Regions from separate parts of the Homo sapiens genome. Here region 2 is linked to region 1. The links come from fine-mapping of genetic effects on gene expression. A gene starts in region 1. The other region holds a variant in brackets. All regions are shown on one strand. Distances are between the middles of the regions. Region 1 holds the start of PLAUR (plasminogen activator, urokinase receptor). Region 2 has its middle 23 kb from the start of PLAUR.

Region 1 (5,375 bases):
TGCTGGGGACGTTCTAGCCTTGCCCCACCCGCGTCGATCTTTATGTTATACCGTCACTCCCAGTGCCCTAATGGAACTATCCCTCCACTCACTCCCCCTGGTTCTACCCGGCTCCAGAGCCTCTCCCGGCCCACTAATTTATTCCCAAATTCTAGGCCCGGCCCCATCAGCCCTCCGGAGTTTCTATTGTTAGATACTCTAGTTTCCCGCGAAGTTCTGTCTCCGCCCTCCAGCTCTCCAACTAGGTTTTGGCCCCGCTCCAGACTCATCGTCGAGGTTCTAGCCCCGCCCTTTAGCTCTTCCTGACCTTATCTTCCCGCCCCCTAGCTCCTCCCCGATGCCATAACCCCGCCCCTAGCTCCTCCTCGAGGCTTTAGTCCCTCCCTCTAGCTCCTCCTTGAGATTCTAACTTCGCCCTTTAGCTCTCCCCGCCCCTAGTTTTCCCCTGAGGTCATAACTCCGCCCCAGTCCCTTCTTGAGGTTTCAGCCCCACCCTGTAGCTCCTCCCCGAGGTCGTAACCCCCGCCCCTTGGCCCCTTGAGGTCCTAGCCCAGCCCCGTAGCTCCTCCCCAAGCTTATAACCCCGCCCCTAGCCCCTCCTTGAGGTTCCAGCCCCGCCCTCTAGCTCCTCCCCGAGGTTATAATCCTGCCCCTCAAGAGTCTAGTCCCACCTTCTAGCTCCTCCCGAGGTTATAACTCCGCCCTCTGGTTACGCCTCGAGGTTATAACCCCGCCCTCTGGCTCCGCCTCGAGGTTCTAGCCCCGCTCCTAGCTCTTCCTCGGTCTGTAACCTCTCCCGTAGCTCTTCCTTGAGGTTCCAGCCCCGCCCTCTGGCTCCTCCCCGACACTCTCTCCCCGCCCCAGGCTCCGCCCCGAGATTGCAGCCCAGTCCCTAGGCCCGGTCCCCGACCTCCGGGCCTTCCCGGACATCCCTTTCCAGCTGCGCGTTCGGAGTATCCCGGAGCTGTTACTCATTCCCGGCCTCCCGCGGTCTCGAGCGCTTTCCGGGTTATTCATCGCGGCCCCAACACCCTGTGGCCACCCGCCCTGACTCAGTTCCTTCTCGAATTCCTCGACCCAGAGCCCCCCACATTTTCCGGGGAAGTAAGTGAGAGTCGCCTCAGTGAGAGGGAAAGGTCCTGAGGGACAGTCCCGGGTCTCCAGCACTGGCTCTGCGCCGCTCAGTCAGCCTCCCTTTGGGCCTTTTGTAAAAGGGGGTCCTGTCCCCCCGTTTCTCAGAGGGGGAGACCCAGCAGCGTGGAGAGCGCTGGGGGGCGCTGCAGGGTCAGATCCTGCGTATTCAAGCACTGGCTGTGTGATTTTAGGCCAGTTATCTAACCTCTCTGTGCCCTAGTTTCCTCTGCGAAACGAAATTAATAAAGTCCCATCGCCTAGTTTGAAATTGCAAGGAAGAGGCTTCGAAGAACTCCATTTAAAAAAAGAACACTTGGGCCGGGCGCGGTGGCTCACGCCTGTAATCCCAGCAGTTTGGGAGGCCGAGGCAGGTGGATCATCTGAGGTCAGGAGATTGAGACCATCCTGGCTAACAGAGTGAAACCCGGTCTCCACTAAAAATACAGAAATTAGCCGGGCGCGATGGCAGGCGCCTGTAATCCCAGCTACCCAGGAGGCTGAGGCAGGAGAATCGCTTGAACCCGGGCGGCAGAGGTTGCAGTGAGCCGAGATCGCGCCACTGCACTCCAGCCTGGGCGACAGAGTGAGACTCTGTCAAAAAAAAAAAAAAAAAAAAAAAAGCACTCACTAAATTATGTAAAGCTAAATGCCTTTGCTCCACTAATATTTCCTTAGCTACTGAGTGCCAGGTACTGCGCCGCGTGGCGTTGCACAAAGCACGAGAATTACTATTATTTGATTAGGGAGGATGCTGAGGACTGAACCGCATTCCTCCAACTCATCCTCTGACAACCCCCAACCCCCTCAATTAGACCCTGTTCCAGGCGCAGGCGTTCGGGACCCAGCCCCTACCTGGGACGCAGGTGTGGAGCAGCAGCAGCAGCGGCAGCAGCGGCGGGTGACCCATGTCGCGAGGGCAGCTCCTGTGCGCGGGGTCCCTGCACGTCTTCTCTCCTTCTGGCCTCAGGAAGGAGGCAGTTTTGTGGCCCCAGGGACTCCTCCCAGACGTTTTGCGAAAGAGCGAGTCAGCCCCAGATGCGTGGGCGCCTCCCCCTCCTCCCGTACGAACCTCCTCCGCCACAAACTTCCCTTCCCGGGGCGCGGCCGGCTGGTGGTGAAGGGGCTGGCTCGGCCCTGACTCATGGAGTTGTGATCACAGCTCTGTCCCCAGATTGCCTGGGTGCAAATCCCAGTTCTCTCTCTTCCTAACGTGGGACCCGGGGCAATCGCTCTCCACTGCTGTAAAATGAGGATAAAAACTTTGACGGTAAATATGAATGTGGCTGATTATTTGGCTAACAGGATTTTTGTTAGTTTTGTCAGGAGGGATACTGGTATTTTGGAAAATGTCCTTATCTAGAGATGCATCCTGAAATATGCATCTCTTAAACACTTAAAACACTTAACCCTTGCTTTGCTTCCCGCTGTGCCCCCAGCTCCTGGACCAGTGCCCAGCACGAAGTAGGTCCTTGGTAAATGTTAAAGGAATGTGTTGAGCCCTCCATTTTGGCCAGCAGCTATTCCAGGCATTGCACCTACATTAAAACACTTAATGGTGAAACCCCGTCTCTACTAAAAATACAAAAATTAGCCGGGCGTAGTGGCGTGTGTGTGTTACTTAGGAGGCTGAGGCAGGAGAATCGCTTGAACCCGGGAGGCGGAGGTTGGGTTGCAGTGAGCCGAGATCGTGCCACTGCACTCCAGCCTGGCAACAGAACAAGACTCCTTCTCACAGAAAAAAAAAAAAAAAAAAAAAAAGACACTTCAGCCAAAAAAGTAGATATCACTGTTACGACAATGGCTGTATGCTTAGGTGGGATTCTGGTTTTTGTTTGTTTGTTTGTTTTTGCAGATGCTTACTAGAGTATTTAGTGGTGAATGTTATTGATGTCTGCATTTTTTGTTGTTGTTGTTTTGGGGATTTTTGTTTTGTTTTTTCTTTTTCTTTTGTTTTCATTTTGATGTCTGTATTTATTTTATAATATTTTAGAAGAGGTCAGATGAGGTGGCTCATGCCTGTAACACCAATGCTTTGGGAAGCCAAGGCAGGAGGATCACTTGGGGCCAGGAGTTCAAGATCAGCTTGGGAAACATAAAGAGCCCTCATCTTTCCAAAAGAAATTAAAAATAAAATAAAATTAGCTGGGTGCAGTGGCCCGTACTTGTAGTCCTAGGTAGTTGGGAGGCTAAGGTGGGAGGACCGCTTGAACCTGGGAACTGGAAGCTGCAGTGAGCTATGATTGCACCACTGCACTCCAACCTGGGCAACAGAGCGAGACCCTGTCTCAAAAAAATAATAAATAAATAAATACTTGAGTAGAAAATAAAGGCAAAATAGCCAAATGGTTGTATCAATTATATAAAGGTAATCAGTATATAAGGGCATATTATGCCATTCTGTCTCCTTTTCTGTGGGTTTGAAAAGGCTTATAATAAGTTTTTTCTTTCTTTTTATTATTTATTTATTTATTTATTGAGACGAAGTCTCACTCTGTCACCCAGGCTAGAGTGCAGTGGTGCAATCTCGGCCACTGCAATCTCCGCCTCCTGGGTTCATGCAATTCTCCTGCCTCAGCCTCCTGAGTAACTGGGATTACAGGGGCACGCCAGCACACCCGGCTAATTTTTGTATTTTTAGTAGAGATGGGGTTTCACCATGTTGGTCAGGGTGGTCTCGAACTCCTGACCTCAGGTGATCCACCTGCCTTGTCCTTCCAAAGTGCTGGGATTACAGGCATGAGCCACTGCACCTGGCCAAGTTTTTTTTTTTTTTAAGTAAAATAAAATACTAAAGATAAAATTGTCTCCCCGTCTTAGGATGCATCTAACTAAACAGAGCAATTTAATGTAGGTGCAATGCCTGGAATAGCTGCTGGCCGAAATGGAGGGCTCAACACATTCCTTTAACATCTACCAAGGACCTACTTTGTGCTGGGCACTGGTCCAGGAGCTAGGGGCACAGCAGGACGCAAAGCAAAGTTCCCACCTTTTGTTGTGTTGACAGTGGGGAGCAGATATGTGTTATCTAATCTTTCACTGTCTGAGAGGGATAAGCAAACTGGAGAAAACAAAGCAGGCTGAAGGAAGTATCTGGGTGCAAATGAGGTGTGAGCTGTTTTAGGTGGGTGATCCAGGAGGGGTTCCCTGAGCAAGTGGCATTCAAGCAGAGGCTGAATGCAGTGAGGGAAGAAGTAGGGCAGATGGGCAGGGAACCTTTCCAAGGAGCAGGAACAACCAGTGCAAAGGCCTTGAGGTGGAAGCCTGATGAGATTCTAGGAACAGAAGAGATGTCAGTGTGGCTGGAACAGATTAGGAGAGGAAGAGAGTCGTAGGGGATGAGTAAGTGGTAGCTACTTCTACTGCTGTAATAATGATTATACTATGTGATTTGTTGTCGTTGTTGTTGTTGTTTTTGAGACAGAGTCTCACTTTGTCTCCCAGGCTGGATGCAATGGCGTGGTCTCGGCTCACTGCAACTTCCACCTCCCAGGTTCAAGGGATTCTCATGCATGCCTGGCTATTTTTTTTTTTTTTTTGAGTCGGAGTTTCTTTCTTGTTACCCAGGCTGGAGTGCAATGGCACGGTCTCGGCTCACTGCAACTTCTGCCTCCCAGGTTCAAGAGGTTCTCCTGCCTCAGCCTCCTGAGTAGCTGAGATTACAGGCATTCTCCACCATGCCTGGCGAATTTTTTGCATTTTTAGTAGAGATGGGGTTTCACCATGCTGGCCAGACTGGTCTTGAACTCCTGACTTCAGGTGATCCACCCGCCTCAGCCTCCCAAAATGCTGGGATTACAGGCTTGAACCACTGCGCCCAGCCCTAATTTTTGTATTCTTAGTAGAGATGGGGTTTCGCCATGTCGGCTAGGCTGGTCTCGAACTCCTGACTTCAGATGATCAACCTGCCTCAGCCTCCCAAAGTGCTGGGATTACAGGGGTGAGCCACCGCACCCGGCCCTAATTTTTGTATTGTTAGTAGAGATGGGGTTTCACCATGTCTGCCAGGCTGGTCTCTAACTCCTGACTACAGGTGATCCACCCACCTTGGCCTCCCAAATTGCTGAAATTACAGACATGAGCTACCGCTTCCAGCCTGTACTATGTGATTCTTACTAACTCATTGAAGCTGTAAGCTAATGATTTTAAGATAAGGTTAGAAAACAAAAAACAAAAAAACTCCCAATGGTGAGCACAGTGGTTCATGCCTATAATCTCAGCACTTTGGGAGGCGAAGGCTGGAG
Region 2 (5,375 bases), 22 kb after region 1:
GAACTGCACTGGGAAACAGACTGCATGTGTCACCCTCCACGGGACCTGGAGTAGAGGTAAGGGCCCCTTCACAGGAGGTGATTTTTGTGGCAGGTTTCTTCCCACCTGCACAAATAAGGCTTGAGCTTCATTTGCACGTGCGTCCTGGTTATGTATTGCCATTTAACAAATCACCCACAGGCCAGGAGCAGTGGCTCACACCTGTAATCCCAGTACTTTGGGGGGCTAAGGTGGGAGGATTACTTGAGCCCAGGAGTTCAAGACCAACCTGGGCTACATAGCAAGTTCCCATCTCGAAAACAAAAACAAAAACAAAAAAACCCCAAATCACTCACAAGGTGGGTGGCTAAAAATGACAATCATTTAATGATCTCTTCCAGTTTCTTTGGTTTGGGAATTCAGGAAGAGCTCCTCTGGAGAGTTCTGAGTCTCTCGTATGTTGTAGTCAGAGGGTGTTAAGAGCTGGAACTGCTGGGGCAGGAACAACCAGGGGCTTTCTGAGCATCTCTTGCATATATGTAAGCACAGGCCTTTCTATGTGGCCTCTCCACATCGGTTAGATTGAGCTTCCTCCCATCATGGCTACCTCAAGGCTCTTTACATGGTGGCTAACGATTTCATTCAGCAAACAAAGTTACAGCTGCTTGGTCTTTATGTCTCAGCCTTGGAAGTCACATAATGTAACTTCTATTCTGCTTTATTGATCAAAATGGTCACAAAAGTTCCATCTGGTTTCAAGATGAAAGAGGCATGGACCCCACCTGTTGATGTGTCATAGATTTGCAAAGGTATTTTTAAATCACCAGTATGATTTGCAAACAGTTGGAGGAGAGGCCTTTTCAGCAAAAGATTTATAATATAACCACAGTAGCCAGAGGATAGACTAATTATGAAGCCAATCAAAGGATCGAGAGCAGTAGCCTGGGCTTCTGCTTTTGGCAGTATGGTGGACTCAATCCTCTAAAAGGTCTTCTGCTCCAAACAGTGGCACACTGGGAAGGTGGAGGACTGAGACAGTGAAATAGAGGAAGTGGCCCATCATGGTTGGGAGGAGCAGTTTATCACTGACATTGCTTAGAATTGCTGGTACTACCTGGTGATAATAAAAAGCAAACTGATTTTTAGTTGGTTTTATGATTTAAAAAAATTCTCTATAGGCTGGGCACGGTGGTTCATGCCTGTGATCCCAGCACTTTGGGAAACTGAGGCGGGTGGATCACTTGAGCACAGGAGTTCGAGACCAGCCTGGCCAACATGGTGAAACCCCATCTCTGTTAAAAATACAAAAATTACCTGAGTATGGTGGCACACACCTGTAATCTCAGCTACTTGGGAGGCTCAGGTAGGAGTGAGCCGAGATTGTGCCACTGCACTCCAGCCTGGGTGACAGAGTGAGACTCTGTCTCAAAAAAAAAAAATTCTCTATAGACACTAAGCCCCTTGTAGCCTGTTCCCAGGCTGGACTGCTCCCACTCCCTTCCCCTGCTTGGTATGCCACTGTTTACAGATAAACAAGATCCTGTACAGAAATATTTTTCCACACTTTTTGGGGTTGCAGAAAGTTAAGAAAATGTCCACGTGTCCCTAAGCAAAACAAAAATGTGAACAGAAATCATAATGGGAGCAGTGAGAAAACATGGAAGGCATGGTGGCCTGGGAGCAAATGCTGATAATAACCTGCTTTAGGTAAACAGGTCTTGGGCTGGCAGCATGCTTCTGGAATTTAGATTCCCACATAAGCAAGGGACCTCGGACAGAAGCCAAAATGATCCCTGGTCAGTAGCACCTCCTGGCACTCAGTAGAATCAAAAGCAATTCCTTCCCAGGGAAAAGCTCCCAGGATTCCCACAGATGAATATCAACCAAATATGAGCTCACAATCATAGTTCATGAAACGCACAAGGAAACAAGCCACCATGAGTGATAGCAGAAATAACAAATCACAGATACAGACCTGTGAGGAGCTCAGCTATTGTAATTATCAGCTGTAGAACATAGCGTACCGGCACGTGATATGTCTGAAGGAATAAACTTAGAATCACAAATGTGAGCAGGCAACAAGAGGTTGTAAAAACTGACCAGGTAGATTTGAAACTGAATCATATAGAACTACTAAGATGGCAACTTTCAGATAGCGAAAGATAGACATCAAGTTGGAAGGCTTGGACTCTGAGCCTCTTGTTGCAATCTCATCTCATTTCCACAGGGGGTCCCCAAATTCTGAAGGGCTGTGCTACACCAGAGGTCTGCAACTTACATGAGAATGCCACCCTGGGTCCAGAAGACTCTGGATTTCATCTCACCGCTAAGCCTGAATGCAACTGCCTTACTCCTACACATCCAGGTGCTTTGACCCCTGCCTTCCTAAAAACCCAACCTTTCTTACCTCCCTGGATCCCCTATGCTCTTTTCAAACCTATGTGTTCCCAGGGTGTCCACATTTCCTACGATAATGCTCCCAATGAGTACAGTTACCCATACACACACACACACCACCTGACACACTCAGAAGCAGAACATCTATTGGCACATATCCACAAACATCCACATTTACATCCTAGCACCCAAAACAAATATGCAGAGGCACACAAATTTCTAAACATGAACATACTCTGAACATATTATGTGAGTGAGGTTAAAGATCCACGTTCTCTTTAAATGGATCTGAGCCTGGGCAGCATGGCAAAACACCATCTCAACAAAACAACAACAACAACAAAACAAAGCCAGGCATGGTGGCATGCACCTGTGGTCCCACCTACTTGGAAGGCTGAGGTGGGAGGATGGCTTGAGCCCGGGAGGCGGAGGTCGCAGTGAGCTGAGATTGTGTCACTATACTCCAGCCTGGGTGATAGGGCAAGACCCCTTCTCAAAAAAAAAAAAAGGAAGAAAAGAAAAGATAAATCTGATGGTGTTTTCCCTCTTTTCTTCACTTCCTT[G/A]CTTGTGAAAGAAGACAGATTTGCCAATAGTCTTCTTTTGGCTTAACAAAGAACAGTCACAAGAAGTTTTGTCTTCCGCAAAAGTGATATGCTAATTGAAATAGTATTTACTGGGGCCACAGTTTATTAAGCAATTCAACCAACTGAACAGAGGGATAGACGTTTTAGAGGTGAGAAAGGCAATTTTCTCTGGATACAGCTGCATTCCCTCAGCTCCAGAGATGTAGAGGAAACTTTGTCAGAAACTACACCAGAAAGGACCATTCTCTCTCTCTGTGTGTGTGTGTGTGTGTGTGTGTGTGTGTGTGTGTGTGTGTGTGTGTATGTGTGTTTAGAGACAGAGTCGCCGTCTATTACCCAGGCTGAAGTGCAGTGGCACGATCATGGTTCAATGCAGCCTTGACTTTCCAAGCTCATGCAATCTTCCCACCTCAGCCTCCTGAGCAGCTAGCACCACAGGCACACACTGCTACACCCAGCTGATTTTTCAATTTTTTTTTTAGAGGTGAGGTCCTCCCTACGTTGCCAAAGCTGAAGAACCATTCTGTGATGCAAAAGAGAGTGTGTTTACTGGCCGGGCGCGGTGGCTCATGATTGTAATCCCAGCACTTTGGGAGGCCGAGATGGGCGGATCACGAGGTCAGGAGATCGAGACCATCCTGGCTAATACGACAAAAGCCTGTCTCTACTAAAAATACAAAAAATTAGCTGGGCGTGGTGGCTGGCACCTGTAGTCCCAGCTACTCAGGAGGCTGAGGCAGGAGAACGGTGTGAACCCGGGAGGTGGAGCTTGCAGTGAGCCGAGATTGCGCCACCGCACTCCAGCCTGGGTGACAGAGAGAGACTCTGTCTCAGAAAAAAAAAAAGGCTGATAGGAGAGTGTAGTTACTGAATTTGCAGGCAAAGCCGAAACATTCTCACCTTAGCTTCTTCAAATCTCCAGCTGCCAGGAGTTTTCCTTTTTTAAACTAAGCAATGGATTTTTTTTTTTTTTTTTTTTTTTTTGTGAGACAGAGTCTCTCTCTGTCGGCCAGGCTGGAGTGCAATGGTGCGATCTTGGCTCACTGCAACCTCCACCTCCTGGGTTCAAGCGATTTTCCCTGCCTCAGCTTCCCAGGTAGCTGGGATTGCAGGTACCCACCACCAAGCCTGGTGAATTTTTGTATTTTTAGTAGAGATGGGGTTTTGCCATGTTGGCCAGGCTGGTCTCGAACTCCTGACCTCAGGTGATCCACCTGCCTAGGCCCCCCAAAGTGCTGGGATTACAGGTGTGAGTCACTGTGACCAGCCCTGAGCAGCGGATTTAATTAATTATCACAATGAAGAAAAAAGGCTGACTTGGGAGCTCGAAATTTACAAGATGGAAAGAAAAAGGGCAAAATAGGAAGACTAACAACAGAAATGTGGGACGCGGAATTTTTGCACACATGATCCCTGTGGACACAGACACAGAACATATCTATGCATGGACACACAGGCTTTCATATATATGACATGGGAAAGAGACAGGCATAAACACCCACAAACATACAAAAGCACAAAATATACACAGGCAAGCTGAAATACATTACCAACATCCATGAACGTTCACATCTGTATACCAACATATATATATATACAAGCACCCCCACACCTTGATGGAAACACAGACACACCCAGCCACAGAAACACACACATACCCATAAAACCAGCCTTATACACATACACATAAACACACGCCTTTGTTTATACAGACACGCAGGTAAACACCTACTCACACAGTGTCCTGCAGAGCTACAAAAACACACATCCCTGACCTCCTGCAGACAGTTTCAGAAACACACAGACAATTCAACACAGGAAGGCACAGCCAGATGTGCACACAGACTTAACAGGCCTGCAAACTTGCACACACAAATGGCATTCTTGCAGAAGTGCGCACAAAAGGCACTTTTGCGCACTCATGGGCACATACTGATGTGCCTGGAAACTCAGCTCCATGCACGTGCATGCACACTGGTTGTCTTCCATCCAGTTCATCTTCCTCTGTCCCCAGGTCCTCATGCAACTGTGACCCACACCAAAGCTGAGACCACCGACTGCTTCACCTGCTGAGACCTCCACAGCTGTGGCCCCCTTCCATGCCCAGAGGATAATCACTACTGCCTTCAGATGGCAGGCATCACAGGTGAGTGCCCATGGGGACAGAAATAGGGCTTGGGGTACAGCAAGACCTATCCTCACTCTCCCACTTTGCTGCCTAGCTTCAGCCATTGTAGCCTTTTCCTGGACATGCAGGGCAGAGGCTAGGGTGCAGTGGAGGGTGTGAGTTTGAAATCTGCTGCCATAGTTGTTTAAGTTACTGCTGAATAACAAACTGGCCAGAACTTAGTGGCTTAACCAGTCATAAAAAGACAAATACTGTATGATTTCACTGAGTTATCTAGAGTAGTCAAA

Evidence for each region. PIP is the estimated chance that this variant, and not a neighbour inherited with it, causes the effect.
Region 2: its variant is the best candidate, but not a certain one, in a credible set for the expression of PLAUR in whole blood (TOPMed, PIP 0.81).

Annotation. Positions count from the first base shown.
Region 1 is chr19:43,668,080-43,673,454 of GRCh38, forward strand. PLAUR (plasminogen activator, urokinase receptor) reads right to left here and starts at 2,090. Exons shown (of 7, transcript NM_002659.4): 1 at 1,987-2,090. The coding sequence starts at 2,041. LOC124904724 (a long non-coding RNA gene) reads left to right here and starts at 685. Exons shown (of 3, transcript XR_007067264.1): 1 at 685-1,104; 2 at 1,947-2,401. RefSeq lists silencers at 589-818, 859-938 and an enhancer at 1,859-2,158.
Region 2 is chr19:43,690,076-43,695,450 of GRCh38, forward strand. It overlaps the pseudogene LOC105372412. Among named protein-coding and RNA genes, the nearest start is that of PLAUR, 23 kb to the left of the region's middle. The variant G/A (reference allele first, on the strand shown) is at 2,940.